Linked DNA regions of Homo sapiens: region 1 is linked to region 2. Evidence: fine-mapped expression QTL. A gene starts in region 2. The other region holds a variant in brackets. All regions are shown on one strand. Distances are between the middles of the regions.

Evidence for each region. PIP is the estimated chance that this variant, and not a neighbour inherited with it, causes the effect.
Region 1: its variant is the best candidate, but not a certain one, in a credible set for the expression of ALDH5A1 in whole blood (TOPMed, PIP 0.70).

The regions. Positions count from the first base shown.
Region 1 is chr6:24,459,490-24,475,528 of GRCh38, reverse strand. GPLD1 (glycosylphosphatidylinositol specific phospholipase D1) reads left to right here. Exons shown (of 25, transcript NM_001503.4): 5 at 298-408; 6 at 1,862-1,910; 7 at 2,893-2,947; 8 at 8,255-8,362; 9 at 8,590-8,617; 10 at 8,710-8,849; 11 at 12,734-12,799; 12 at 15,130-15,250. Among named protein-coding and RNA genes, the nearest start is that of GPLD1, 22 kb to the left of the region's middle. RefSeq lists a silencer at 12,457-12,657. The variant C/T (reference allele first, on the strand shown) is at 9,363.
Region 2 is chr6:24,486,218-24,502,256 of GRCh38, reverse strand. ALDH5A1 (aldehyde dehydrogenase 5 family member A1) reads right to left here and starts at 7,288. Exons shown (of 10, transcript NM_001080.3): 1 at 6,907-7,288. The coding sequence starts at 7,260. It overlaps GPLD1 (glycosylphosphatidylinositol specific phospholipase D1), which reads left to right and starts at 12,679. Exons shown (of 25, transcript NM_001503.4): 1 at 12,679-12,842. The coding sequence starts at 12,746. RefSeq lists a silencer at 6,893-7,282.

The sequences.
Region 1 (16,039 bases), 27 kb after region 2:
TTGCTCTGTCGCCCAGGCTGGAGTGCAGTGGTGCAATTTCAGCTCACTGCAACCTCCGCCTCCCAGGTTCAAGCAATTCTTGTGTCTCAGCCTCCTGAGTAGCTGGGATTACAGGCAAGAGCCACTGCACCTGGCCTCTTATGTGGTTTTTAATAACTAGAAACTGCAATTTACTTGCCTGAAATTTTTTGTTAGGTCTCAGTAACATAAATGAATTTATATTTATTAAAACTTTTAATAGGATTGTTATTATAAAATCACCCAAACACACATGACTCTAATTTGCTTGTTTGGCAGGACACAGAGAAACTGGTAGCTTTCTTGTTTGGAATTACTTCTCACATGGCGGCAGATGTCAGCTGGCATAGTCTGGGCCTTGAACAAGGATTCCTTAGGACCATGGGAGCTGTGAGTACATCCCTTTATGGGGAATGACTTTATGGGAGTGATACTGTCTCACCTAAGATCAAAACCTGACCGTTTTAAAAGAAAGGAAAATGTTAGGTTATTCAGACTTCTGCCCAAAGCAGTGTTTGGTTAGAGTCCCATCTTTTCCAATTTGTTCCTTTTTTTTTTTTTTTTGAGATGGAGTCTCACTCTGTTGCCAGGCTGGAATGCAGTGGTGCGAAGGCGCGATCTTGGCTCACTGCAACCTCCAACTCCCTGGTTCAAGTGATTCTCCTGCCTCAGCCTCCTGAGTAGCTGGGATTACAGGCACGTGCCACCATGCTTAGCTAATTTTTATATTTTTAGTAGAGACGGGGTCTCACCATGTTGGCCAGGGTGGTCTTGATCTCCTGACCTCATGATCTGCCTGCCTTGGTCTCCCAAAGTGCTGGGATAACAGGCATAAGCCACCGCGCCCGGTCCAATTCATTCCTTTTATTCTTCTTGCCAACTGGGTAGATTCATCCACAAGAGCAGAGTGGCTAATGTGTACTGAAAACAGTCATAGATGTGATGTTTTGTTTTAGTCACAAAAATAATTGATAAATCTTATGCTTTATTCAAGCTGTATATCTTAAGAAGGATATGAATACCTGCCACTTGGTTCTATTTAAAAGTAATACTTCTACTTTATTGGACTTTTTCTCTCTCTTTTTAACTTTCTATATGAAAATGCCATGTCCTCAAACTGAAAATTGTGATCTTACCTGATGACTTAGCCTCTGGAAGGCCCCCTGGTCCTTAATTTATGTTAATTACATTCTGTTAGAAGTTTCAACTTCAACTCAGAGATTTTTATATATATCCTATAAGGCAGAGTTGTCTGTAGTAGCTTTATTGCCAGACATATGTATCCAACTCAGCTGCATATATATGTGTGTGTGTGTGTGTGTGTGTGTGTGTGTGTATGTGGGTGTGGTTTTTTTTGTTGTTGTTTTTTTGTTTGTTTGTTTTTGAGATGGAGTTTCACTCTTGTTGCTCAGGTTGGAGTTCAGTGGTGCAATCTCGGCTCACTGCAACCTCTGCCTCCCAGGTGCAAGTGATTCTCCTGCCTCAGCCTCCCAAGTAGCTGGGATTACCAGAACCCGCCACCATGCCCGGCCAATTTTTTGTATTTTTAGTAGAGATGGGGTTTCACTATGTTGGCCAGGCTGGTCTTGAACTCCTGACCTCAGGTGATCCACCCGCCTCAACCTCCCAAAGTGCTGGGATTACAGGCGTGAGCTACCGCGCCCTGCCTTTTTATTATTATTATTTTTTTACTAATAAAATGTTAGTGTGAAAATTGAGTCTATTATGCGTCCTCAGCAGTTCATTGAGTTAGCTGTCATCTCCCACCACTTGCTTGACTGTGGAAGTAAGAGTTGGGGCTACAATTTGTAATACACACCAGATGGTTCTCTTTCTTTCTTAGATTGATTTTCACGGCTCCTATTCAGAGGCTCATTCGGCTGGTGATTTTGGTACTGTTTATTTACATTTGCTAAATTTTCTCGTGGTATAGTTCACTTATAATGACATCACTACTGTGCTTTAAATATGTGTGTCTTTAATATTTTGCTGGTTGCATGTATTTTCTATTTAATGTTGCAGTTCATTTAGAGTAGAGATGTACCTCATTTAACATAGAGATGTATTTCTAAAAACTTGTGTCTATATGTATTTTTTTGTTAAAAAATTCTACACTTTGTTGTTGACATGTCATAATTTTAGAAAAACTTTACTTATACATTGGGTTAAAATTCATTAGCTAGTGTCTCCTACTTTCCTAATACTTTAGCTTTAAACTAGTAAACTCCACCTTTTGCCTGTAGTAGTAAATTGCTTTTAAATATTTAAACTAGGTGGTGAATGGTGTTTATTAAACCCTTATGGTCGATATTTCCTTAAAGTAAAACAAAAAACACCTTTGGTTATATGGCCAGTTCTTTCTTAATTTATATGTTTCACTAACTAAGATTTTTAAAAGATAATTTTTTCTTAAAAAAAAAAAAAAAAAAAAAGGCGGCCTGGCGTGGTGGCTCACACCTGTAATCCCAGCACTTTGGGAGGCCAAGGCAGGTGGATCACCTGAGGTCAGGAGTTCAAGACCAGCCTGGCCAACATGGTGAAACCCCACCTCTACTAAAAATACAAAAATTAGCTGGGCGTGGTGGCGCATGCCTGTAATCCCAGCTACGAGGGAGGCTGAGGCAGGAGAATTGCTTGAACCCAGGAGGCGGAGGTTTCAGTGAGCCGAGATCACGCCATTGCACTCCAGCCTGGGCAATAAGAGCAAAACTCCGTCTAAAAAAAAAAAAAGGCATGCCTTTACCTAAAACAATGAACAAAAACATGTAATAATGTGAAAAACTAATAATCCAACTTGTCAGACCTCATGTTGAATAGATGCATGCTATGTTTGTCACTAATCCACCAAATGTCAATATTTTTCTCATACCCTAGGAGGAGATGTGTTGAGCCAGTTTGAATTTAATTTTAATTACCTTGCACGACGCTGGTAAGAGCAATGTACATCTAAATATGTGGTATCTAAGTGGCATTTAGAGCCTTGACTTTTTTTCTTAGAAAATATAACTGACAATATAATTAGAAGTCTTCTGCACTGGTAAATTTTGAAAAGTAAAATTGCATATTAGCATAGTTTAGATTCTTTGAGAAATTGAATTCCACTCAATTTTGAATGGAGTGGAGTTGCTGAGTCATAGTTTACTTTTTCAAAATGATCATCTTAACTTATGCTCCCATTAGCTTTGTATAATCATTCTGGTTCTTCTGCATTCTCCAATACTTGGTATTGTCCAACTGTTAAAATTTCCAGCCTGTTTGTGTGTAATGGTATCTCATTGAGGTTGCAGTTTGAATTTCCCAGATTGCTAATGAGGTTACACTTTTCTTCTATTTTATGGATCATTTGTGTTTGATTTTAAGTGAAAACTTTTTCCAGTTTTCAGTCTATTTTTCTGTTGGGTTGTTTATCCTTTTTATTTATTTGTGAGTATTTATATATTCTGGCTTCTACTCTCTTGTCAGTTTGTCACTTAGTTATTACAAATGTCTTTCACAGTTTGTGGTATGTCCTTTCACTTATTGTGTATCTTGACAAACAGGATTTGTTAATATTCATGTAGTTGAATAGATCAGTTTTTCCTTTGTAATGTGTACTTCTGATGTCTTATTTAAGAAATCCGTTCTTAGCTAGGTGTGGTGGCACAGCATCTGTAGTCCCAGCTACTCAGGAGGCTGAGGTGGGAGGATCACTTGAGCACAGGAGTTTGAGGCTTCAGTGAGCTATGATCGCGCCTCTGCACTCCAGCCTGGGCAACACAGTGAGACCCTGTCTCTTAAATAAAAAGAAAGAAAACCTTTCTACCTTGAGGGCAAATGGTTATTCTCTTACATGGACTTCTAAAGCTTTTATAGTTTTATATCTTAGCTTTATGTCTTTGATTTAACTGGAGTTAATTTTTTGTATGTTCTGAGATGTAAATCTAATTTTATTTTTTCCTCTGGAGATAATGGATTGTCCCAGAATGATTTATCAATAGTCTCCCCTTTCCTTGCTGATCTACAATACCTTCTCTGTTTTGGTTTTCTGTTTCTTTCTGTCTTTTTTTTTGAGCCAGTCTAACTCTGTGGCTCGGGCTGGAGTGCAGTGGTGTGTGATCTTGGGTCACTGCAAACTCCAACTTCCAGGCCCAAATGATCCTCCCACCTCAGCCTCCACCTGGCTAATTTTTTAATGTTTTGTAAGAGATGAGGTCTTGCCATGTTGCCCAGGCTGGTCTCGAACTCCTGGGCTCAAGTGATCCGCCCACCTTGGCCTCCCAAGTGTTGGGATTATAGGTGTGAGCCACTGCACCCCCTTTGGGTTATAAATTAAAATGTTATGTATATGTATGGGTCAGTTTCTGGGCTTTCTGATATGTCCTTTTGGTCCCTGAACAATATTGATTATTTTAATTGCTGTAGCTTTATAATAAGTCTTGGGCTCTGTTAGGGCAGATCTTATAACTAGTCCTTCTTTTTCTTCAAAAGTACCTTGCCTATTCTTTGCCTTTGTTCTTTCAAATAAGATTTAGGCTCAAGTTGTCATGTTCCAAGAAAAACTTTGCTGGAATTTTGATTAAGTGTTTATTGAATCTAGAGATGAATTGGAAAATTAACAATTTTGAAATATTGAGGCCAGGCACGGTGGCTCATGCCTGTAATCCCAGCACTTTGGGAGGGTGAGGCAGGTGAATCACCTGAGGTCAGGAGTTCGAGATCAGCCTGGCCAACATGGTTAAACCCTGTCTCTACTAAAACTACAAAAATTAGCCTGGTACGATGGCACGTGCCTGTAATCCCAGCAACTTGGGAGGCTGAGGCAGGAGAATCACTTGAACCTGGGAGGCGGAGGTTTCAGTGAGCTGAGATCATGCCATTGCACTTCAGCCTGAGAGACAAGAGCAAAACTCCGTCTCAAAAAATAAAAAAAGAAAAAAAAATTTACCATTCAAATAAAAAGATTTGTAAGTTATAAGTAAGATAACATCACTATTTATTTCTTTACTTTTTATCAGGTTTATCTACTGATTATTAAGAGAGAAATTAGTTTCAAAGATCTCCCACATGAGGGTAGATTTTTCAATTTCTTGTAGTTCTGTCAGAGTTTGCTTTGCTATATAGATTTTGAAGATATATTGTTAGGTACATTCAATTTCAAAAGGATACCTTGTGAATTGAGCTTTTTATCGTGAGGCAAAATCCCTCTTTATCTCTAATAATAGTTGCTGCATTAAAGTCTCCTTTATCAGATGTGACTGGAGTTATACTGGTCATGTTTGGTGATATTCCATGGTGCTAGAATAAGTAGGCTCAAGTTAAGAACTGCCGAGATCATGCCACTGCGCTCCAGCTTGGGCGACAGGGTGAGACTCCAACTCCATCTCAAAAAAACAAACAAAAAAAAAACCGTCCAGGTTCCAAACCTAACGTGTAGGGTGTGGCACACGTTCTCAGGGCAAAAGCTGGTTGTCCCATTTGCTTACCTCCCAGGGTTTTTTTGTTTCTAGTTGTTTTTGGCCTTTGAAAAATTTCTGCTGTCCTGCTAGCTTGGTGATTCATTTAAAAAAATATTTTTTGTTATTTTGTCTGACTTTTTAAGCTATTTTTATTGGGAATGCCATTCCAGTGCTCTTATAAAATAAAAAATGAGTCTCTCAATTGTTTCTTTCTTTTACCTACTAAAAGAAACCTACTAAAGTTAGATTTTATTGGTTGCGATTTTTTATCTTGTTTATTCTGAGGATTTTTTTTTTATTATACTTTAAGTTTTAGGGTACATGTGCACATTGTGCAGGTTAGTTACATATGTATACATGTGCCATGCTGGTGCGCTGCACCCACTAACTCGTCATCTAGCATTAGGTATATCTCCCAATGCTATCCCTCCCCCCTCCCCCCACCCCACCACAGTCCCCAGAGTGTGATATTCCCCTTCCTGTGTCCATGTGATCTCATTGTTCAATTCCCACCTATGAGTGAGAATATGCGGTGTTTGGTTTTTTGTTCTTGCGATAGTTTACTGAGAATGATGGTTTCCAATTTCATCCATGTCCCTACAAAGGACATGAACTCATCATTTTTTATGGCTGCATAGTATTCCATGGTGTATATGTGCCACATTTTCTTAATCCAGTCTATCATTGTTGGACATTGGGGTTGGTTCCAAGTCTTTGCTATTGTGAATAATGCCGCAATAAACATACGTGTGCATGTGTCTTTATAGCAGCATGATTTATAGTCATTTGGGTATATACCCAGTAATGGGATGGCTGGGTCAAATGGTATTTCTAGTTCTAGATCCCTGAGGAATCGCCACACTGACTTCCACAATGGTTGAACTAGTTTACAGTCCCACCAACAGTGTAAGAGTGTTCCTATTTCTCCACATCCTCTCCAGCACCTGTTGTTTCCTGACTTTTGAGGATTTTTAAATTAAAAGATGATTGAGTATAAATCTGGTTTTTAAATGCTGCTCTTTGCAATGGAAATAACTAATATTTGTGAACCAAAAGCCTGATTTAGAATTCTTTTCATTGCTTTATACTGTAAACCAAGAAGTATCTGAGACAAGTCTCAATCAATTTAGGAAGTTTGTTTTGCCAAGATTAAGGACACACCCATGATACAGCCTCAGGAGGTCCGGATGACAACATGTGCCCAAGGCTGTTGGAGCACATCTTGGTTATCTGTACATTTTAGGGAGACTTGGGACATCAATCAATAAATGCGAAATGGCTGTTGGCCAGTTAGCTCAGTTGTGGTGCTAATGACACCAGGGTCGCAGGTTCAGTCCCCTTACAGGTCAGTTGTTTTGGCCAGGCATGGTGGCGCATGCCTGTAGTCTCAGCTGCTTGGGAGGCTGAGGCAGGAGAATTGCTTGAACTTGGAAGGCGGAGGTTGCGGTGAACCGATATCGCACCACTGCACTCCAGCCTGGGTGACAGAGTGAGACTCCATCTCAAAAAAAAAATAAAAATAAAAAAATAAGTAAAATGTCCATTGGTTCAGTCCAGAAAGATGGGACAACTCGAAGCGAGGAGGAGGCTTCCAGGTCATAGGTAGCTATGAGACATCCTTCCGAATTTCCAATTAGCCTTTCACTGAAAATGCAGTTTACAGTAATAGTGTCACTTATGCTGTAGTCTGGTTTAGTGAAACAATTAGGCAAAGGAAGCAATCAGATATACATTTGTCTCAGGTGAGCAGAGGGATGATATTTGAGTTCTATCTGTCCTTTGCCCACATGAATTTCCTTGTGGGCAAATTGTGAGGGAGGTATGTAGCTTTTAATCTTTGTAGCAATCTCACTTAGAAATAGATTGGGAGGGCCAGGTGTGGTGGCTCACGCCTGTAATCCCAGCACTTTGGGAGGCCGAGGCAGGTGGATCACCTGAGGTTGGGAGTTCGAGACCAGCCTGACCAACATGGAGAAACCCCATGTCTACCAAAAATATAAAATTAGCCGGGCGTGGTGGCACACGCCTGTAATCCCAGCTGCTTGGGAGGCTGAGGCAGGAGAATTGCTTGAACCCGGGAGGCGGAGGTTGCGGTGAACGGAGATTGCACCATTGCACTCCAGCCTGGGCAACAAGAGCGAAGCTCCATCTCCAAAAAAAAAACAAAAAACAGAAAACAAAAACAACCACACAGAAACCACACAGAAATAGATTGGGAGGCAGGTTTGCCCTACACGGTTCCCAGCTTGACTTTTCCCTTTAGTTTAGTGATTTTGGGGTTCTGAGATTTATTTTCCTTTACAATATTTTTATACTTTGGTATACTTTTTTGTATACTTTATATACTCTGAAATTAAGATGTCAGGGTGAGGAGACATTTTTATAATAGTGTTTTTAAAATAATTCTTTTCAATTCAACTTGAAACCATGAAAATACTTTAAATTACTTCTTGAACTCTGAATTCACAAAATTAACCACTCTTTTTGTACGTTATAGTTAGTTTCCAATCTGAGTATACCTACATAAATATTTGATTTAAGTTACCAGTTGTTTGCTCTGCATCATTGGGCCAATTATTTAACTTTTCTGTGCCTTAATCATTTCTTCTTATGTAAAACGGGAATATGATAGTACTAACCACCTGAGGTCATTGCTAGGATTAAATAACTGGTGCATGTAAAGACTTTTACATGGTGCCTGGCACAAAATAATCACGGAATAACTGGTAGCTGCTGCTGCTGTTGTTACTATTTTCAGCTTCAGAATCAAAACAACTCTTACTTTATTCTGCATTTTTCAGGTATGTGCCAGTCAAAGATCTACTGGGAATTTATGAGAAACTGTATGGTCGAAAAGTCATCACCGAAAATGTAATCGTTGATTGTTCACATATCCAGTTCTTAGAAATGTAAGCGTAACTCAGAGGACAATTTGCAGCTGATTTTGTTGTGACTTCCTTTGCACAGTTTTTATGTTTTTGTTTCCTGAGACTGGATTTTGGATTTATGGATTCTGCTTATTCAAAGGCAGTTGCATGACGGTGGAAAAGGGTGGATGGAACTTTTTCTTCATTATTTGCTTCATTTCTCTGTTACAAACTGCAACTCACAGCCAAAATTATTGTTTATTTTGCAGGTATGGTGAGATGCTAGCTGTTTCCAAGGTAAAGGCGTCATTCTTCCAAATCTTAAAGGATTATAAAGATACCAGGAATAGTACCATATTCATTTTATTTTTTCTTTCTCTCTGCCATAGTTATATCCCACTTACTCTACAAAGTCCCCGTTTTTGGTGGAACAATTCCAAGAGTATTTTCTTGGAGGACTGGATGATATGGCATTTTGGTCCACTAATATTTACCATCTAACAAGCTTCATGTTGGAGAATGGGACCAGGTGAATTCATATTGCATTTCTATTACCAATCACTCTCTGCCTTTTTACCCCATCCCCCAACATAACTCTCAGGTTTTTCAACTGATCACATAAAAACAAAACAAAACAATCTCATGAAGTGCTTTTCTAACCTATTCAAAGAGGGAAAGAATGGAAACTCAGTGATCTTATAAACTTGACTGGTTCCCATCCAGTTGGCTTGGTTGATGCTGCTCGTGTTTTAGAAATAGAGAGACAGTTATTGCAATATTTGGGGTCTGTGAGAAATGGCTCAGCCAGGCAGGAATCAGCCTCCACAGGTGGTGCTCCATTTGTTTCTTTCTTTTTATTTTGAGACAGAGTCTTGCTCTGTTGCTCAGGCTGGAGTACAGTGGCACGATCTCGGCTTCACTGCAACCTCTGCCTCCTGGGTTCAAGGGAGTCTCGTGCCTCAGCCTCCCAATCAGCTGGGACTACAGGTGTGCACCACCATCCCTGGCTAATTTTTTTGTATTTTTAGTAGAGATGAGGTTT[C/T]GCCATATTGGCCAGGCTGGCCTGAAACTCCTGGCCTCAAGTGATCCACCTGCCTTGGTCTCCCAAAGTGCTGGGATTACAGGCATGAGCCACTGCACCCAGCCTCCATCTGTTTCTTTTGGGAAAACCCATGCTGGGGGCTGGAGTGCCAGGTCTCCACAGGTCCCAGAGTGGCTGTGTTCTTGCTGTGGTGACACACCTCTCCACCCTGACTACACTCTCAGGGTTTCAGGGTGTCAAAGGATACCTCACCTAATACTAAAAAAACAGAAGCAAATAGAGCTATAGCTACATGCCCCGACACACACTCCAACGTAAAATGAGAAATAAATGCATTTGTAAAACATTCTGTTGAAATTTGACATCTAGCCCAGATGGGACAGCTGCTGAACCTCCAGTTCCTTTTCTTCTCCTAAGCATGCTCAGGACAAGAATTAATCAGAAACTCAGCCGAAATATAGATAAGGTAGACTGTGATTGTCCCCACTTCTAGCTGTAGTAGATCATTAGACTCTCACAGAGTCTTACACTACCCCTAGATCAGAGGGAGCCAAGGCCCTTCTGATAACCCATTTCTTTCTTTTTCTTTTTTTTTTAAGAGCACATGTGTTTTTGTTTTTTGTTTTTGAGATGGGGTCTTGTTCTGTCACCCAGGCTGGAGGGCAGTGGCATTATCTCAGCTCGCTACAACCTCCACCTCCTGGGCTCAAGTGATTCTTGTGCCTCAGTCTCGAGTACCTGGGACCACAGGCTCACACCACTGCACCAGGCTAATTGTTTGTATTTTTGGTAGAGATGGGGTTTTACCATGTTGCCCAGGCTGGTCTCCACCTCCTGAGATCCAAGTGATCCACCCGCCTCAGACTCCCAAAGTGCTGGGATTACAGGCATGAGCCACCATGCGTGGCCGGAAAACCCATTTCTTTTTTTTTCTTTTCTTTTCTTTTCTTTTCTTTTTTTTTTTTTTTTTGAGACAGAGTCTTGCTCTGTTGCCCAGGCTAGAGTGCAGTGGTGCGATCTCGGCTCACTGCAACCTCCACCTCCTGGGTTCAAGCAATTCTCCTGCCTCAGCTTCCCGAGTAGTTATGACTACAGGTACTCACCACTACACCTGGCTAATTTTTGTATTTTTTGTAGAGACAGAGTTTTGCCATGTTGGTTGGCCAGGCTGGTCTCGATCTCCTGACCTCAAGTGATCCACCCACCTCTGTCTCCCAAAGTGCTGAGATTACAGGCGTGAGCCACCATGCCTGGCCCAGAGAACCCATTTCTGATCATGCTGTTGGACATGCAGCCTCTCCCCACTACTGACCTGAACCGGGTTGAGATGTGGGTGTGGCTAGGAAGCACAGGGCAGCCCCCGAATCGGGGAAAGGGCAGAGCGGGAAGCTTAGGCTGTACCACCAGCAGTGGGAAAGAGGGTTCTCTGGGCGGGACCTGTGCCTGGGAGACTGTTCCAGGTCAGGATCATAGCAGAGTTAGCTGTTCATAAGTTGGAATGGCCTACAGAATGTAGATCCAGAATATTATACTGGGTGATATTCCTTTACCCTTATAAACATTTGCTAGTACCCAAACAGTGTTAACCATAATTATATATTGTGTTGATTTGAAACAAAATTCCCTTTGATGACAAATTCGACCTTAGCTTGGTACATAATAAACTTGTTTTTAACAATCGGTGAGTAACAATTTGGCAGGGATAGCAATCTCATATGAATGCCACTTTTAATAGTGAAATAAACCTCAACTAAAATCCCCAAGCTCTCCCGTGGACCTGGGTTTTTAGGTGCATACTGCCGTGGTTGTACAGAATTTAAGGGATCTGCCACTCACTACTGAGTTATCTGGAACAAGTTGCTAAACCTTCCAAAATCTTATTTCCTCACCTATAAAATTGGGACAGCAATACTATTTTTACCATAGGATTTTTGTGAGGAGTAAATTAGATCAGTCATGTAAAGGGTTTAGAATAGAGTAAGCACTTACTAAGTATTGGTTACTATTATTATTAGAAGGAAGCAAAGTTTGTATTGGAAGGACTCATAACATAAGGGCATGTTTGAGTGATTGACCTGCACTTACTTGTTTTATATAATCCAAACTGGAAAACATTTTTTGGTGTTCAATTTTGGTTTGGTTCTCCAAATAGCTAAGGAAAGATAGCTGGACCTTATTCTTTCGTTAGGAAAAGATAATTGAGAAAGAACATATTTCTTGTCTCTTGATCCCTGTCCCAATTTACCAAGGTGTAAAATTCCATGAGTTGATTGCTTGTTTGCATACATATACAAAGAAAGATTCATCAGAATTTATGAAAATGTATGGGAAATTCAGAGAAGTCTCCAAAAAGAGACAACACAAAAAAATTCATAACAGAAAGGAAAACATAAATATGTTCATAGTAACAGGCATTTCCCAGCTTACTAACACAGGTTATCTTCCAAAGCTCACTTATGTTATTTGGTATATTTTCCTTAAAAAAGCAATGAAGTAGTGGTAGTTACATTGCCAAGAACTCTACTCACCTCAAACTCTATTTGAAAGTATAGTGCTAATGCTGTAAGGCTGCCTTTTGTGTCCTGTGGTGGACAAGAAAAGGTCCAAAGAGAGAACCTTTTCCTCAGCTCAAACCTGGCCAGAGAAATGTTTTGGTAGGAAGAGTCTGCCTTCAGCTTTTTCCCACCTCCTTTTTGGAATTCCTTTTTCAGCAACTAATTTTCTTCACCCCTACACTCCACATTACTTTTGTATTACCCCAGCCTCCCTCAGTGACCTCCATACAAATCTTAAGATAGTCTTCATTCCAGAATACTCTTCTTATATTAATACCTGCTTCCTCAGTGCTTCTGTTCAGTGTTGGGGGAAAGCCTCTATTGGGAAGAGTTTATCTCTTATGTTCTCAGAGGCTTTTTCACTTGTAAAAGGGGATCCTTCATTAGCTATTTAATTATTGAAATTATGGAATTTTTTTTAAAGAAATGAAATTGAGAAATTCAGACACATTTAGGCATAAATGTGTATAATTGGGCAGAAGGTGACATAATTGGTAACCAGTGTTGATAACACTCTCAAATTCTGAGACGTTTCGTGTTAGCGTGGAACAGCTCAGCAGGTGGAGCGGGGAGGGAAGAGGAAGGCTGAGTCTGGGGTGACTGGCAGCATGAGCCTTCCTGGATTACCATGATAGTGACAACCGTCAGCCTACCCACCCTCTCTGGGAGAACATGGGCTCTTAATTAGTCCTGTATGGCTAGGTAATAAACACTTTAAGCCTTTGGGAGATGATTGAAGCGCACTACCGATTCTCGGTAAAATTCATGCTTGTGAAGAAGTAGATAAATGGCTAACTCATTTGACTGTTTCCTCAGTGACTGCAACCTGCCTGAGAACCCTCTGTTCATTGCATGTGGCGGCCAGCAAAACCACACCCAGGGGTAAGTGGATTCCAAAATTGTTCATAGAAAAAGTACATCTCACCTGGAGGAGATGCCCTATAGAGGTTGAGAACACGGGATCTGTTGAGAGACAGCTGTAGGTTCAAATTCCAGATTTGTCACTTGCAGCTGTGTGATTTTTAAACAAGCTGCTTGATTTTTGGAGCTATAGCTTCCTCCTTTTGCAAAATGGAAAAAGCACATCAACACTCCCAGAATTATGGTGTGGATGACATGCAGTGGTGGATGTAAAGCAATTAGCACATGTTGAGTTGCTCATTAAACGGTAGTTAGTGGCTGGGCACAGTGGCTCATACGTGTAATCCTAGCACTCTGGGAGGCTGAGGCAGGAGGATCCCTTAAGTCCAGGAGTTCAGGACCAGCCTCAGCAACATAGTGAGACCCCTATATCTACAAAAAATGAACAAAATTAGCCAGGTATGGTGGTGTGTGCCTGTAGTCCCAGCTACTTGGGAGGCTGAGGCGGGAGGATTGCTTGAGCCTAGGAGTTCGAGGCTGCAGTGAGCTGAGATCAGGCCAGTACACTCCAGTCTAGGCAACAGAGTGAGATCCTGTCTCAAAAAAAGAAAGAAGAAATGTAGTTAGTATTATTGTAACTATCAATATTATTGTCTTACTCATAAACTTCACCCAGATTTTACATGAAAATTTATTTATTGATGAGACAGTGTTGGGAGAAGCCCTCAATGTTAAGGGCCAGAAGCCTGGTTTGTATTTTAAGAAATGATATTTTCTGCTGGAGTCAGGTACCAACCGACAGTCATTTATGCATTCATTTAATAAGTTATTAATATTACAAATATGTGTATATTTATTAATAAAATAGAACAAAATAACACAAATAATAAAATATCATTTATTAATCAGTACGTGCCAGGAACTGGTTCAGGCACTAGAGATATCATTGTGAACAAGACAGAAACAGTTCCTGCTCTCAGGTATATGGCCTGGCAGGTAGCTGGGCACTAAACAAGTAATTGTGGACATTGTTAAGTGTTAGGAAGAAAAAATGCAAGGTGCTCTGGGGATTTGCAAGCGTCCTGGCCTGGGCACAGGAGGGTTCTCCTTGAAGAAGTGATGGCTTAACAGATATTTAAGTGTCAGGAATTAAAAATGCAGGGTGTTCTGGGGATTTGCAACAGAGCGTCCTGGCCCTGGGCACAAAAGAGCTCTCCTTGAAGAAGTGATGGCTTAACCGGGATATTTAAGGATGATCAAGAGTGAGATATACTCAAAAGTAGAGTATTGCAATGATAAAGGTACTGAGAGGAATGATCTTAGCACTTTGGAAGAATGAAAATTACACAGAAAGTGTTCAGTGAAGTCGTCATTGTTGTATTTGAATTGGGTAACTTTTTTTTTTCTTTTTCTTTTTTTCCTAGCAAACCATTCCTTCAACATACTTTGTTGTTGTTTAATCACATTGAGCACCTTTTGATTAGGCTTGCAATCTTTCTTGGGGTTGCCAGAACCCTGACACTAGTTGGTGTCATGCCCAGGGCCCCGTCACTTACGGCTGTTGTCCACTCCCTACTTCAGTCATTTCTGAAGCCTCTCTGGCTCCCTGAGTCATCTGCTTTTTGGCTGGTTGACATCTTTGAATGTGAAAATGTATTTTTATTGTATAATTAATTTTAGCATGTCTTTGAAGATAAATCAGTATGCTGGCTGGGCGTGATGGCTCACACCTGTAATTCCAGCACTTTGGGAGACCGAGGCAGGTGGATCACCTGAGCTCAGGAGTTCGAGCCCAGCCTGGCCAACATAGTGAAACTCCATCTCTACTAAAAATACAAAAAAATCAGCTGGGTGTGGTGGTGCATGCCTGTAGTTCCAGGCTACTCAGGAGGCTGAGACAGGAGAATTGCTTGAACCCAGGAGGCGAAGGTTGCAATGAGCCGAGATCGTGCCACTGCACTGCAGCCTAGGTGACAGAGCAAGACTCCGTCTCAAAAAAAAAAAAAAAAAATCAGTATGCTTGCAAAGCAGTTTCCCCACCAGCTGATACCTGTTGCTAAATTTTTTCATAATCTGGAAAGAATTGAAGCCTTTTACTCCTACCATAGAGCTCTGATATTATAGGAAATATGTTTTATAAGGATAGGCTTTTAAGCCTTAGAAATGTGTTTACTAAAAGATTTTGTGAAATGAAGGTTTTCTAAAACTTTCTGTGTTGCTCCTTCAGCCTTCTGACGTTAAAATTTTGTGGTCTTTTAACCTGTGATTAACTTGACTATATTCTTCAACTCAGTTTTACAGGGGGTTGTTTTCTCAGTCGTAACCAGTTTATTCCTCTTTCTCTTCAACAGCTCAAAAATGCAGAAAAATGATTTTCACAGAAATTTGACTACATCCCTAACTGAAAGTGTTGACAGGAATATAAACTATACTGAAAGAGGAGTGTTCTTTAGTGTAAATTCCTGGACCCCGGTAAGAATTTTCTGCTCTAAGTTGAGAAAGAGGAATGCTGCTTCTTGAGATACCTTGTTTCGCTGAGTCCCTGGGTATTTATTTGTCCATTGAAATTTACCTGTGGTGGGATGTGGTGGCTGGGAGGCTGAGTTGAGAGGATCCCTTGAGTCCAGGAGTTTGAGACCTGTCTGGGCAACATAGCAAGACCTTGTCTCTATAAAAAATAAATAAATTAGCTGGGTGTGATGGCTGTGCCTGTTGTCACAGCTACTTGGGAGGCTAAGGCAGGAGGATTGCTTGAGCCCAGGAGTTCAAGGCTACAGTGAGCTATGATCATGCCAGTGCACTCCAGCCTGGGTCTAAGCATGTGCCAGGCCGGCAAATACTCTTGGCATCCATATGTGGTTTGTTCTGGAGATGCCCTGAGTCTGCACCTCAGTGGTCTCTGTCAAGTCAAGATGACCCTGGGCACCCAGGCCAATCCTTCTTTGGACTTAGTCCCAAAGGCGTTCACAATGTTGAAGGCTCACTGTGCATAGCCCCATTGTGTATGAAATTAATCAATGAAGTTAGCTGTTAAGTGAAGACACTCTACTGGGGGATATAAAATGAAAGACAAATGAACTCTGACCCTTAAAAAATTTCAGTCTGAAAGGAGTGACAAATACAAAAATAACCATTATGTGAGTAGACTGCAACACATACCATGGTGCGGTAAGTGCATCATTAGATAGTAGGGAGAATGGGCGTGGTGGCTCACGCCTGTAATCCCAGCACTTTAAGTGGCTGAGGCAGGTGGATTGCTTG
Region 2 (16,039 bases):
TATCATCCAATCTGCTGAGAACCTGAAAAGAACAAAGTGGCAGAGGAAGAGCAAATTCACTCTCTGCATGAGCTAGGACATCCATTTCCTCCTGTTGTCAGACACCAGACATTGTCATTCCTGGTACTCAGGACTTTGGACCCAGTCTGGAACTCAGACTGGACATATCAGCTTTCTTAGGTCTCCAGCTTGCAGACAGCAGAGGGTGGGACTTCTTAGCATCCACAGTCACATGAGCCAGTCCTTTATAAGAAGTCTCTTCCTATATTCCTACATATCTATGATTATATATATACACACATACACATATATATATACACACACACACATATATATATACACCCACACACACACACACACATATATATATATATATATATAAAACATTGGTTCTATTTTTCTGGACAACCCTGAGTAAGATGCTTGGGGAAACATACATTGAACTTCTGTGTTTTTTGATTGTTTGTTTTTGAGACAGGGTCTGGGTTTGGACAATGAAAAGCACACAAATAAAAAAAATCAAAAATTTAAAAAAATTTTAAAAAAGAGACAGGGTTTTGTTCTGTCACCCAGGCTGAAGTGCAGTGGTGTGATCATACCTCACTGCAACCTCTGCTTCCTTGGTTCAAGTGATCCCCCCAGCTCAGCCTACTACTGAGTAGCTGGGACCACAGGCACACATCATCACGCTCAGCTATTTTTTTAACTCCTCTGTGTCTGTTACAACTTTAAGCAGAATGTGACTCAGGCACTACATTTCCATCCACGAGACTGGCTCTGAGTTATTTCTGAACAGCTTTATGATATGCTTAGGTAGGCTTGTAACTTTGCTTCTCCAAACTATACTTTTCTTTGGAAAACAAGCCCTGTGGAGAGTTCCTTCCATCAAGTTGATTCAGTTTAACCTATTTCTAGAGGACTAGTACATGCAGAATTGGCAACTACAGGGGAAGAAAAGTTCAAAAAGCAGACCCTACAAGAGGTAACAAATACTTTTTTTCTAAACATCAAGGGTATAGCTCAAGAACACTTCGATAACAAGATTTGGTCTACTAAGGAATCCGGCTTGATAGCTAAACACTTAGACTACCAAGTTAACATCATGTTATATACATCTTACAACGATTACCTTGATCTGTTAAAATAAGCATTTTACCTTGATCTGTTAAAATAAGATTACTTTGATCTGTGAAACTAAAAAAGCATTACTAGCTCTGCCTTAGTGCTTAAGGTATCACAGCATCACTTAGAAGTAGAAAGAAATCTTATCTTCCCCTTAAAGTCGTTGTTGTCATGCCATACAGACTTTTCATGCTAACAGGATCTACAGGATGATCATGCTCAGCTAATTAAAAAAAAATTTTTTTTGTACAGACAAGGTCTCACTATATTGCTCATGCTAACTGACCCTTCTTTGATGAGTAATAGAGATCCAATTTCAAGTTGCATCTAAAGAGGTATACTGCGTCATAAATTATAAAAGATAAAATAAGTTTTGTGGAAACAGCTATTATTGCTTATGGTAAATAAGAACAACTTTAATTTTACCATACAAAGGTATATAGTTCCCTACGTTATTATTATTATTATTATTATTATTATTATTATTTTAGATACGGTCTTGATCTGATGCCCAGGCTGGAGTGCAGTGGCGCAATCATAGCTCACTGCAACCTCAGACTCCTGGCTTTAAGCGATCCTCCTGCCTTGGCCTCCCAAAGTGCTGAGATTACAATCATGAGCCACCATGCCTGGACCATTCTACTTTCTGTCTCTATGAATCTGACAACTCTAGGTACCTCATATTAAGTAGAATCATACAGCATTTGCCCTTTTGTGACTGGCTTATTTCACTCAGCATAGTGTCTTCAAGTATTGTTCCCTATTATAGTGGCTCACTGGCAACCTGGATTTGTCCCAGAGACTGACATATGGACTGGGGCATGCATGAGGCATAAGAAAGGGTTTTACACACTTAAGAAGAGGGCCCAGGCACAACAACATGAATGCACTTAATACCACTGAAATGTACACTTAAAAATGGTTAAAATGGTAAATGTTATGTTATGCATATTTTGCCATAATTTAAAAAATTCCAATGAACAAAAAACAGATAAAGGGATACATTGGATTATTAACAATATTATGGGACCAGGTGTGGCGGCTCATGCCCGTAATCACAACACTTTGGAAGGCCAAGGAGGGAGGGTTGCTTGTGGCCAGGAGTTCAACACCAGCTTGGGCAATGCGGTGAGATCTGTCTCTACACACACACACACAGAAATTATCTGAGTGTGGGGCTGGGCGCAGTGGCTCGTGCCTGTAATCCCAGCACTTCGGGAGGCCGAGGCGGGCGGATCATGAGGTCATGAGATCCAGACCATCCTGGCTAACACGGTGAAACCCCGTCTCTACTAAAAATACAAAAAAATTACCCGGGCATGGTGGCAGGCGCCTGTAGTCCCAGCTACTCGGGAGGCTGAGGCAGGAGAACCTAGGAGGCGGAGGTTGCAGTTGAGCCGAGACTGCGCCACTGCACTCCAGCCCGGGTGACAGAGCGAGACTCCGTCTCAAAAAAAAAAAAAAAAGAAAAGAAATTATCTGGGTGTGGTGGTGCATGCTTGTGGTCCCAGCTACTCAGAAGGCTGAGGTGGGGGAATCGCTTAGGCCTATGAGTTTGAGGCTGCAGTGAGCCAATGATAGCATCACTGTACTCCAGCCTAGGCAATGGAGCAAGACCCTGTCTCAGAAAAAAAAGAAAAGAAAAAAGGAAGAAATGGCTTATTAAAAAAAAAATTAATTCATTCACATAAAACCACTTAAAAAAAGAAAATGAGGAAGGCCTAGAGAATCTAGGCCACCTGGGCTGCCATCAAGGCACTCTAAAGAGAGCGCTGCTCAGGCTGTAGCTTCCCACATCTGCACAGGTGTATTCAAAGCCAAGAAAAACCTTCATTTTTGTTTTTTGAGACAGTCTCGCTCTGTCACCCAGGCTGGAGTACAGTGGCGCCATCTCGGCTCACTGCAACCAACCTCCGCCTCCTGGGCTCAAGCAATTCTCATGCCTCAGCCTCTTGAGTAGCTGGGATTACATACAGGTGCATGCCACAATGCCTGGCTAATTTTTGTATTTTTTCTTTTTTTTTTTTTTTTTTGAGACAGAGTCTTGCTCTGTCCACCAGGCTGGAGTGCAGTTGGCATGATCTCGGCTCACTGCAACCTCCGCCTCCCAGGTTCAAGCAATTCTCCTTGGCTCAGCCTCCTGAGTAGCTGGGATTACAGGCGCCCACCACCACGCCCAGCTGATTTTTGTATTTTTTAGTAGAGATGGGGTTTCGCCATGTTGGCCAGGCTGGACTTGAACTCCTGACCTCAAGTGATCCACCTGCCTTAGCCTCCCAAAGTGCTGGGATTACAAGTGTGAGCCACCGTGTCTGGCCAATTTTTGTATTTTTAGTAGAGACAGTGTTTCACCATGTTGGACAGGCTGGTCTCGAACTCCTGACCTCAGGTGATCCACTCGCCTTGGCCTCCCAAAGTGCTGGGATTACAGGCGTTAGCCACCGTGCCCAGCCTGAACCCCTCCTTTCAAAAAGGAAGGTTCCCTGAGAAGATCCTAGCCCTTGTAAGATGGAAGCTGACATCACTGTAATGTTCAAGGGGCACAGACATTAGGATGGGCGGTGTGATCTGAACACAGGATAATGCTGCTAGTGTCAGCAAGAGGTCCCAACACCCGCCCTGCAGCTGCCAAACAATCACTGACAGACTAGAAGGCTTTCCAGACCCCTGCAGTGTAACACCATTGTATGGCAGCCTTGATCTTCGTGGGGCCTTGTGGGACTCCAGAATGATGCTAGGGGAACCAGGGCTCAGGCCCTGGTCCACTCCTTTCCTGTGATCTCACCATTTCCATAGCTGTAAGTATGTATGCAGTACACACAGGTATGAATTTCACATTTATATTTCTAGCCTAGGGTTCGCTCTCAAACCTCAGACTCATACACCCAACTGCTTACTTTACATCCTCTCTTGGGTGTGAACCGACATCTCAAACTCAATAAGTCTAAAACTGAACTCTTGATATCTCACCCTAATGCTGTTCAATTCAGCTATCCTCATCCTTCCAATTGCTCAGGCCAAAAGCCCTGGAGTCATCACTAACCCCTCTCCTTCACCTACTTTCTATATAATGATCCATCAGAAAATCCAGTGGGCTCTACCTTCAAAATACATCCTTTATGGGATAACTCTTCACCTTGTCCACTGCTACCACCCTGGTTCAAGCCACCGTGGCCTCCCACCTAAATCCGTGCAACAACCTCCTAACCTGTCTCTCTGCTTCCACCACTCTTCATCTATTCTCAGCACTGTGGTTAGAGTGGCCTTTCAAAATGTAAATCAGATCATATCTCTGCTTAAAACCCTGACACAGCCCCCTCTTTACTCAAAGTAAAAACCAAGTCCTTAGAATAACTCACAGGTCCTACATGTTCCACCCACTCTTCCCCTTCTCCCTATGACCTCCTCTGATACAACTCTTCCCCTTTGCTCAGTCCACACGGGCCTCCTTGCTGTTCTGCAAATGTGTCAGCCATGCTTCTACTTTGGCTCTAGCTGAATGTCCTTATGAGAGGTGAAGCCAGCTGGACTTCCTGGGTCGAGTGGGGACTTGGAGAACTTTTCTGTCTTACAAGAGGATTGTAAAATGCACCAACCAGCGCCCTGTAAAACACACCAATCAGCACCCTGTAGCTAGCAAGAGGATTGTAAAATGCACCAATCAGCGATCTGGAGCTACCAAGGAGATTGTAAAATGCACCAATCAGTGCTCTGTAAAAAACACACCAATCAGCGCTCTGTAGCTAGCAAGAGGATTGTAAAATACACCAATCAACGCTCTGTAAAATGCACCAATCAGCGCTCTGTAAAACGCACCAATCAGCAGGATCCTAAAAGTAGCCAATCGCAGGGAGGATTGAAAAAAAGGCATTCTGATGGGACAGAAACGGAACACTGGAAGGGATAAATAAGGGAATAAAAAGCTGGCCACCACGCCCCACCCACCCAGCAGCGACAACCCACTCGGGTCCCCTTCCGCGCTGTGGAAGCTTTCTTCTTTTGCTCTTCACAATAAATGTTGCTACCACTCATTCTTTGGGTCCATGCCATCTTTAAGAGCTGTAACACTCACTGCAAAGGTCCGCGGCTCCATTTTTGAAGTCAGCGAGGCCACAAACCTACCGGCAGGAACCAACTCCGGACACACTTACCTCCTTTGGTCTTTGTATCTCATGTCCTCAATGAGACCTACCCTGATGTTACGGGCTGAATGGTGCTCCTGGCAAAATTGACATGTCGAAGTCCTAACCCCCCAGTATCTCAGAATGTGAGTGCATTTGGAAATAGGGTCTTTAAAAAGGGAATTAAGTTATGATGAGGTCATTCTGGTGGGCCCCAATCCAATCTGACTCCTGTTTTTAAAAGAAGAAGAGATTAGGACACATATACACACAGAGGAAAGACCATGTGGAGACACACAGGGAAGATTCATTCATATAACCAACTGCTTACTTTACATCCTCACTTGGGCGTGAACAGACATCTCAGACTCCATGAGTCTAAAATTGAGGTCTGATGAGATACAAAGACAAAAGCTGAGCTCTCTGCAAGCCAATGAGAGGCCTTAGAAGAAACCAACTCTGACAACACCTCGATCTGGGATTTCTACCCTCCAGAGCGGTAAAATGAGAAATGTCTGTTGTTCAGGCCACCCAGTCTGTGGTACTTTGCTATGGCAGCCCTAGCAGAGGAATATGCCTGGTCACACTGTTGATGCTGCATCTTGCCCCTTCCCTCTGGCCCGGATCCTCTCCTGCTTCTACCTTTTTTCCATATTGCACTCAGCATCTCTCACATACTTATTTGCTTAGATATTATGTTTGTTGTTTAGAGTTCTGATCTCTCTTCTGCTCCCCTTCCACCCCATGTGAGCTCCATAAGGGCAGAATCCTTCTTTCGTTTAACTGAGGTATCCCAAGCACCTCCAACAGTGCAGGGCATACAGCAGGTGCTCAGTAAACAGCTGATGGATGAATGAGTGCTAAGACTCTCTTGTACTCGTAGGGATCGCTGGATGCATTCCTTCAGAGGGAGAGCTTTGAAGGACACGGTAAAAAATTTCACTGCGTTGACTCCAGGTTTAATAATATAATATTAGAAGGAAGAAACTACTTTCTTAGTTTTCTTCTTACTCTATTCTTCCCATTTAATGGCCCTCCACCCCTTACTCCCAATTCTCCAGTGTTCTCTATGCAATGGCCAATAGCAGCATTTATCCATTTAGGGTGAAAACCTGGAGAACGCTCCTGGATTTCTCTCTTCCCCTGCACAAAACCCAAATCTTTCTACAGTTCTCTCCGTTTCCGATCCCATGATTCTGGCCAGGGGCCCTCACTACCAGCCTTCTCAAGGGCCGCTGAAGCAGCCTCCTGCGTGGGCTCCCTGCAGCTGCGGAGATATTTCAGCTACTCTGAAGGGCCACACGTGCTCTCACTTCCCTGACACCCCTCCCCTTTCTCCCCGCCCCTCCACGGTTAGGCTTGTTGACCATAACAAGCAGCTCGCTTGTATTAGGCGCTCACGTTCTGCCTCCCCTACTGGGCAGTGCATAACTTGATGAGGCTTGAGGGCAGGGGTCGTGTCCCTAGTGCCCGGCTCAAAGTGGAAGCTCCAAACTTATTTGTCGGTCGTCTCCCTTGTTGCTCTGACTTTCCACTTTGTATACCCTGGGGAACTGAGCACAGGAGGGAGGCGACGCGGCTGGTGTCACTTTGGGGTAAAGCCCCCTCTGCTCCCCGCCGTGTCCCCGGCCAGCTCTGGCCCCCTGCATCCGGGCTCTCTCACCTTGGCGGAGACCTCCCTCCAGCGGCAGAAAGCCTCGTAGGCAGCGCGCACGGCGGCGCGGGCCTCTCGCACCCCGCAGTCGGCTACCATGCCCAGAGCGGCGCCGCTGGCCGGGTCTTGCACGGGGAAGGTGGCGGCGGCCGGGAGCCAGCGGCCGCCCACGAAGCTGTCGGTGCGCAGCAGCGCCGCAGAGAGGCCCGCCAGGCGCCCAGCGTAGCAGCGGAGCTGGGCCGGGCCGGGCGCAGGCCCGGAGGCAGGGACCAGGCCGCCGGCGCGGGGGCGGAGGCGGCAGCCTGGAAACGTCGACCCGAGGCGCCGGGCCCCACAGCTCCGCAGCCAAATGCAGGTCGCCATGGCCCGGGCAACGACGGCGACAGGAAACAGGCAAGCGGGCGCGCGCGCACGGGAACGCAGGGGTCGCGGGGAAGCAAGAGGAGCGAGGAGGCGCCGGGGACGCGCGGGGAAAGCGTGGGAGCTGGCGGAAGGTTGCAGAGCCACAGAGCAGCGCCCTCTCTCCGCGTCTTTCTCGCTGCACCGCCGCGCCGCCCTCTGCACCTTGCCCTAAGCGCCGCGCGGCTTCTCTCCTGGCGCGACCTTCTCCCGGGGGAGGGTTGGGTTCGGGGATGGAGAAGGCTCGCCAGTAGATGCACCTGCGGACTGCTGTCACCTTTTCACTTTTCGGGTGCTCATTTGTCACTAACTGCTCCTGAGCCCCCAATCGCTGCTAGAGACCCACTCTCTCCCCTTAGCATCCCCCAAATTCGGCATCCCCGGAATTTGTGCGCGGTCCATAGATGCGCTGGTGCCTGCCCTAAATGCCAAGGCCGTGATCACGCTTCTTCAGTTGTAGCTCCTGAGCACGTAGTATTGATTGGGAGCGATCGTTCTCTGAGGGGTCGAAGTGTGACCCCGCGTTCTGCTGCCTGGCTGCTTTTTTGGGTGTGTGTCTAGGCATTCTCCTAGGGTTGCTCCCGATAAATAACAGCGCTTTGGAAATAAACAGACTAGGATCCAAACTCAAGTCTGTTGCCGACAAGCTGTGTGACCGACAGGTTAACCTTAGTCCAGTCACTTATAAAATAGAACCATATCTACCCCATTTTGTTGTGAGATAACGTAAAATGCTCATTACAGTTGCCACATTAAATTCAATATAGCGTTCAAAGTCATACTAGCTACCCTAGTCAAGCCACTAGTAAGATTAAAGTTGGGTCACCAACTAGTAAATGGAAGCATTTGTCAAAATTGAATCAACCAAGGTATAAGGATTGAGCATACTATCCAACCAAGGTATTTGAGCACCTTTAAACAGCATTCTTCATCCGTTAAAAAATTAGACTTGGGCTTAAGACTCTGAAAGCAGCAGGGAAGCTTAAAACCTAATGAGGATAAAAATAAAAATAGCAGGCGTATGCTGGGAATTTGTGGGTGCAAATGAAGCCCAGCCCTATGCATTGATTTTAGGTTACATATCTCCCTTTCTCAACTCCTACAGCGTTGAGAGTATCTTGCTAGCTTTCACCTTTTTCTAGGACGTTGAATTTTTTTCTAGGACATTTGCAAAATGCCGAGGCAGTAACTTTAAATTTTGACTTTGTCTTTTGCTGAGTCAGATCCATTGAGTTTTGAGCCAGTCACATATGGCAGAAGTGATAACAGTAGAGTTTAATCAATTTCACACTATTTTGCTCTGTATTTTATTGCAGGAACTGGGGAGAACCAGGGAGTCCTAATAGGGATGTGGGCCAGTAGGTATCACAGGTGGGGCTGGGGAGCTGGCGTGTTTACATCTCCTGCCTGCGGAGGGAGTTTTTGTTTTTGTTTTGTTTTGTTTTTGGTGGTGGTTTTTGTTTTTTGTTTGTTTTGTTCTTGTGAGACCGACAGACTCATTCTGTCACCCAGGGTGGAGTGCAGTGGTGCGATTTCAGCTCCCTGCAACTTCCGCCTCCCGGGTTCAAGCGATTCTCCTGCCTCAGCCTCCCGAGTAGATGGGGCTACAGGTGTGTGCCACCAAGCCCAGCTAATTTTTGTATTTTTAGTAGAGACAGGTTTTCACCGTGTTGGCCAGGCTGGTCTTGAATGCCTGACCTCAAGTTATCCGCCCTCCTTGGCCTCCCAAAGTGCTGGGATTACAGGGCTCATTTCTACTGGCCTGGGGAAATCATTCAATTGAGGCCTCAATCAACTGAGGCCCAGAAAAGCCAAGTTAATTGTGGCTGCCTCTCTTGTTCAAAAATTACCCTAGCCCACTTACCTTTTTAAGGTTCTATTTCAAACGGTACCCACTCCCTTTCCCAGATGACTTATCCATTACGCACAGTAGGTACGATGCCAAGGGCCCATAAAACTTTTAGGAGCACTCACAAATGTTTAATTTATTCTAAAATCTGAAGAAAAGAAGTTTTAGGTGGCATATTAATATGTTAATCTTACACCAATGCAGATGTAAAATGTGATTTCTATTTATTGTTTACTTATTTTTGTGACAGGAAGTACTTCACAAAGGCAAAAGCGCCTGGAGCTTAGAAAGTTCACAATGTGGCCCTCCCCTTTTCCCTCAGTTTTGTGCCCCTCTTCAAGCCCCCATTCAGAGTGTAAACAATTTCCTCCTGGCTCCTGTCTTACTTCCAGCCTGTCCTGATGCCCCCTAGCGCCTGGCTGGGTGTCTGTCCTTACCAGGGCCTACAAGGACAAGACCATCAGGTGAGAGGGACCTCTTCCCTCCTTTCTCCTTTGGCTGCCCTTGTCCTGGGAACCTCCACTCCCCAGTTCCCACCCTTATTCATCCTCTCCCCCATTTTCTTTTTCTTTTTTTTCTTTCACTTTTTTTTTTTTTTTTTTTTTTGAGTCAGGGTCTTACTCTGTCGCCCAGGCTGGAGTGCAATGGCACGATCTCAGCTCATTGCAACGTCTGCCTCCTGGGTTCAAGTGATTCTCCTGCCTCAGCCTCCAGAGTAGCTGGGAGTACAGGTGCGCGCCACCATGCCTGGCTAATTTTTGTATTGTTTAGTAGAGATGGGGTTTCACCATGTTGGCCAGGCTGGTCTTGAACTCCTGACCTCAGGTGATCTGCCCACCTCGGCCTCCCAAAGTGCTGGGATTACAGGCATGAGACACTGTGCCCAGCCTCTTCTCCCCCATTTTCTAGACTGGCCCACATAAAGCTTGAGACCCTCTGGCTTTCAAACCTGTATTCTCCCTACTCACTCCTTAATGTAACTGTATGTTTACTTTTCACCTTGGGTCTCTATTTCCAGAAGAGTTCTAAATGGTAGAATCATGCTGTCTTGTTTATAACAAAGCCACCTATATTAGGAAAGGGGGGTGTGGGGCAGAAAGAAAAATATTTCCATATGCTTATTATTTGTCAGATAGTAATATTGTGAGCTACGTTTTAACTTTCTTTAAAGTCATATCTTTGATGTTTTTATTGTTACCAAAGTAATACAAACTTCATAAAACTGCAAGCAATATTGTCATATAAAGACCATATTCATAACTATCACACTAAGCAAATAATTTCCTCTTATTTTATTACATTTATACGTTTATGTCATTCTGAATCTCAAATACAAAAAAATGCATAATGAGAAATTGAGACATTTGGGATTAGTATTGTTTGGTAACTGAACCCATTCCTTTTTTTTTTTTGAGGTGGGGTCTTGCCCAGGCTGGAGTGCAGTGGTGTGATCTCAGCTCACTGCAACCTTCACTTCCCAGGTACAGGCGATGTTCCCGCCTCAGCCTCCTGAGTAGCTTGGACCATAAGTGCATGCCACCATGCCCGGCTAATTTTTGTTTTTGTTTTTTTCTTGGTAGAGACGGGATTTTGCCATGTTGCACAGGCTGGTTTTGAACTCCTGGCCTCAAGCCATCTGCCCGCCTTGGCCTCCTAAAGTGCTGGGATTATAGGCGTGAGCCACCACACCTGTTCTGAACCCATTTCTTTGGTGCTTTTTGGATGGGTTTGTTGTATTATATATGGTTAGATATCTTTTCTAGCAGTATTTTTTTCCCCTGTAACCATTGATTGACTGCTCTTGGATGTTCTGAGAGACAATATCCAAAGTCCCAATTAATAATTGTGACTCCCTCACGCACAGTCTGTAGAAGGCCCAGAGTGACAGGGAGGCAAACTCAAAGGCCTCTGGTGGCCAGAAGGGGTGTGGAAACCTGCACACATTGCATGGATGGTGGGGACTGGAGGAGCAGGACATGCTCTATCAGGGGGCAGCTGGCTCTTTGGCTGCAGCTGGTTGTCGTGTCACATGGGAGCGTCAGTTCATGATGCCAGTTCTTTTGTTTTTAAGAGAGCCAGAAATCTAGATTTCTACGTGAATTTTCTCATTTAGAAAAAGTTCATAAACTTGATTTAAGTTTATAAAACATCCTGTTAGCCAAACAAAACACGTAGGCATATGGCCTCTGGACTAATCAGGAGTAGCTGGGCCTACTGCCCCTCAGGTCTGGGGGTAGCTGCGGGATTTCTTTCCTTGGGGCTGTGCACATGGCTGTGTTAAGCTTACAGGGGAAACTGTTGGGGCGACAACTGTTGTCAAATCATTCCACTTTCTTTTTTTCTTTTCTTTTTTTTTTTTTGAGACAGGGTCTTGCTCTGTCACCCAGGCTAGAGTGCAGTGGTGCAATCTCGGCTCACCGCAATCTCCACCTCCTGGGTTCAAGAGATCCTCCCACCTCAGCCTCCCCAGTAGCTGGGACTACAGTCACGTGCCACCACACCTGGCTAATTTTTGTATTTTTAGTAGAGACGGGGTCTTCACTATGTTGATCACGCTGGTCTCAAACTCCTGACCTCAGGTGATCCACCAGCCTCAGCCTCCCAGAGTGCTGGGATTACAGGTGTGGGCCGCCACGCCCAGCCAAATCATCCCACTTTCTATTCATCCTTTCATTTGGCAAACCTGAAGTGAATACTATTTCCTCCCACTCTTTTAGGAGCCCATCTCTTGCTTTTAATGTAAAATATGCATAATTTGTGTTTTAAGATTACCATCAGTTTCATGAAGAGCTTAATTTTTCCCATGGATGAAGTGTAAGTGGGTACCTGATAATATATCGTGAGCTTAACATTTTCCAAACCCTGTTTCTTGGCCCTAAATCTGCCCCCTTCCTTCCACCTCCCAAGTGGAATTGACATCTTTGCTTCAGCTGCAGGAATCTGACCTTGCAACAGGCTCTGGATAAGCCCTATTAGAACAGCCAGAGGTAGAGAGACCAGGAGTGGCTGCTCTTGTGTAATCCCATACAAGTGTCAGTATCTGTTGCCAAATACTGAAAAGGAAGCCAGTTCCAGCTGATTACCATAAAACTTTCCCAGCACTTGTGGCTTGGGAGGCGGAGGAAGCAGGACAGCCTGATAAATGTGTAGAAAGGATGCATGAGAGATCCACCCTTGTAAGGTGAGGTGGTCTAATATGTTGACTATCTGCACAGGTGAGCCTTTTTATAGAAAGCAAAAAATATCTGGAGACAACTTTGCTTGCATCTCTACACAAATTTCATGTTAAAATGAAATCCAGAAAAAACCTCGGTCAGAAGATGCAGTGCTTCTGGCCTAAGGCTTTTCAGATTTCAGTTTATCCTCCCAACCCCACCCCCCAGGAGCACAGAGTTTGTTTGCTGTTCTGGTGAAGCTAAACAGTAGTTGGACAGTTGACTTCATTGGAAAACGATATTATTTTGAAATGAGGCTTGGTTTCCTCGGTCAGTGACCTGCTTAGAGAGAAGCGGTGGGTCTGCACCTGGATTTTGGAGTCCCAGTGCTGCTGCAGCTCTGAGCATTCCCACGTCACCAGAGAAGCCGGTGGGCAATGAGATCATGTCTGCTTTCAGGTTGTGGCCTGGCCTGCTGATCATGTTGGGTTCTCTCTGCCATAGAGGTTCACCGTGTGGCCTTTCAACACACGTAGAAATAGGTAAGTACTGGTGTCTTGTTATGTTGTTGAGAGGACAATACATCTGTCAAAGACATTAAGGAAGAGACTGAAAATCCCGCTCGTGGATTGATACAGTTTCCCCTGGGCACTGAGCTGAGTGGCCTGACAGCAGGGAGGAGAAGCCGGTGATTGCAGTCATCCAGGGATAGGGATTGGCAGCATGACTTCAGTTAAGGGGCAAATAAGAAAGAGAGCTGATGCCCCATTGGTCATGGGACCCCTGTGTGTTTCTCTGGGTGGGGAAATAGTGAGAGGCTCAGTGAACGAGAGGTTGCAACGTGGCAGCAGAACTGACAGAATGGGAGAGGAACAAGATGGGTGGAATATGGCAGGAGTGAGAAATGTACTTTTGTTGTTTTTACATGTCCAAGGACAGGCATTTCCAAGTATATGTAAAGAGCCATATGTGGCCATGGGAGTGGGTCCCTGAGTCAAATTGCTGTAAAAGTGCTTGGCTTCAGGAAGGTCAAGAAAGTAAGGGAGTTTAGTTATCCACATGCACGGTGCCAGGAAGATGGCAGGAGTTGGAGAGCAGAAGGGTACAGCAAGCCAGTGCCACCGACCTTAGGGGCAAGGGCAGAGTCATCCTGGATATAGGGAGATGGCACCACAAAGAGTTATTTAAAATTTTTATTTTTCTAGCTTTATTGATGTATAATTGACAAAAATTGTATAAATTTAAGATATACAACATGATGTGTTGATATATGTATGCCTTGTGAAATGATTAGCACAATCAAGCTAATTAACACATCCGCCCCCCCCACATAGCTACCATGTTTTTTGCATATGGGCTGAGAACACTTAAGATCTTTCTTAGCAAAAGGATTTGGTTCTTGTATGAAGTGTATTTGTAACATGTTTTAACGCATGGAAAACGTGAGTCAATTTGTAATAGAATTAGCTGTGATAACATTCTACAGCAATTTTCAGATTAATTTCAGATATACCTGATGTTCTGAGTTTTCTTTTTTTTTTTTTTGAGACGGAGTCTCGCTCTGTCCGCCATGCTGGAGTGCAGTGGCGCAATCTCGGCTCACTGCAAGCTCCGCCTCCTGGGTTCACACCATTCTCCTGCCTCAACCTCCCGAGTAGCTGGGACTACAGGTGCCCGCCACCACGCCTGGCTAATTTTTTTGTATTTTTTTTTAGTAGAGATGGGGTTTCACCATGTTAGCCAGGATGATCTCGATCTCCTGACCTTGCGATCCGCCTGCCTCGGCCTCCCAAAGTGCTGGGATTACAGGCGTGAGCCATCGCGCCTGGCCTGAGTTTTCTTTAATTTAGATAAAAATTATAACAGAATTTTATAGTTGTACCACCTCCAGAAGTTTCAAAGAATAATAAGATTATAGGCAAAAAATGAAAATTTATCAGTGCAAAATAGACATATATACTGAGCTACGATGGGCAAGAACCTGTTATCACAGAATTTGACTATCTGAAAGGACACTAGAAGTCACCGAGTCCAGTTCTCTTCTTTTACAGATGAAGAAACTGATACTAGACAGTTTTACAGCTAAGTTTTCAGTGGCCTGGCCTAGAATTACATGTCCTGACAGCTGGTCCGGCGTTCTTTCCATTAAAAATGTACTGCTAGAAGGGAGTCAGGAAACAATGGAAAAGAGGATCAGACTTAGGTTCTAGTTCCAGCCATCCAGTAAAGTAGATGTGTGATTCTGAGCAATTCACTTTTTACCTACCTCTCAATTCTATAAAATGAGGGGGTTGAACTTCTTAAAGAATTCTAAAGTGTCTTGCAGTTCTATGTTCTGTGAAGTTGAAATTGCCAAAACTACAGAGTAAGCTGATGAGGAACAAATATAAATGGAAATACTCCATTTTTAATCCTTAGTGTTTAAAAATTTACAAGACAGATTGCATCTGAAATTTTAATAAAACCAGATAATTGCTTGCCCTTCTTCATTAAGTACCAAACAAAGGTCCTAATGGACATTTAAAGAATAATATTTATGTGAACATAATTGAAGGCATCTCCTGAAATAGAATCTGCACGGATTCTGAGAATTTTTTTACATAGAAGAAGACCAAAACTCCATCATTTATTTACTAATAAATTAGATGATTTTATAAATATTTTGGTTCACTTTTTCATTTCTTATAAAGGGGCCTGAGTGGAAGGTCAGCATTATCTGAGTGAGTTAATTAGAAATGGCTTCATTCAGCGTAAATCACTGGAATCCTGTACACAGGTTATTTGTATTTGTGGGTTGTGACTTTTATGATATTAATGCTTATAGTAGTGGCAATAGTTTTTTGTTATATGAATTTTAAAAATTGGAGGTGATTCACAACAGAAATAAGGTATCACCTTTGAATGTCACTTCCCAGGGAATGTTAGTCCTCTTATTGATTCTTGGGAGATTCAGGCTGTGGGTGGGTGTGGGGTGTAGTTGGTAGCTTTCTGAGATGATTTTGTCCTTCTGGTCCAATGATGAAAAACTTTTGAGGATCATTGGTTCAGTCCATAGGTTAGGTGTTATATTGTATTTTGTACTTAGGTTTGTCTGCCTCAGTACTGAAGCAAAATATGATGACAGTTTCTTTTTTTTTTTGAGACAGAGCCTCGCTCTGTTGCCCAGGCTGGAGTGCAGTGGCGTGGTCTCGGCTCACTACAACCTCTGCCTCCTGGGTTCAAGTGATTCCCCTGCCTCAGCCTCCCAAGTAGCTGGGATTACAGGCATGCGCCACCATGCCTGGCTAATTTTTTGTATTTTTAGTAGAGACGGGGTTTCTCCATGTTGATCAGGCTGGTCTTGAATTCCTGACCTCAGGTGATCCGCCCTCCTCGGCCTCCCAAAGTTCTTGGATTACAGGTGTGAGCCACCATGTGTGGTCTGGCAGTTTCTTTTTCTTGAGCTCCTACCAAGTGTCAGCCACTGTGCTTGTCACTTAGCATTTATTATTTCAACCAACCTATACGGTGGGTATTTTTTAAACTCTTTTCCATAGGAGGGAACTGAGGTCTAGAGAGGTTGAATAGCACTAAAGCTCATAGAGTTATTTAATAGTTAAGCAGAAACTTTAAATCACCATCTAAACTTGCTTTGTACTATAACAATAGAAATACTGCACAAGCCTATACCTAATGAAAATTGCCAGTGAGTGCAAACTCATTTCATTTCCTGCGTCCTTGACAGTTATAACCACAAATT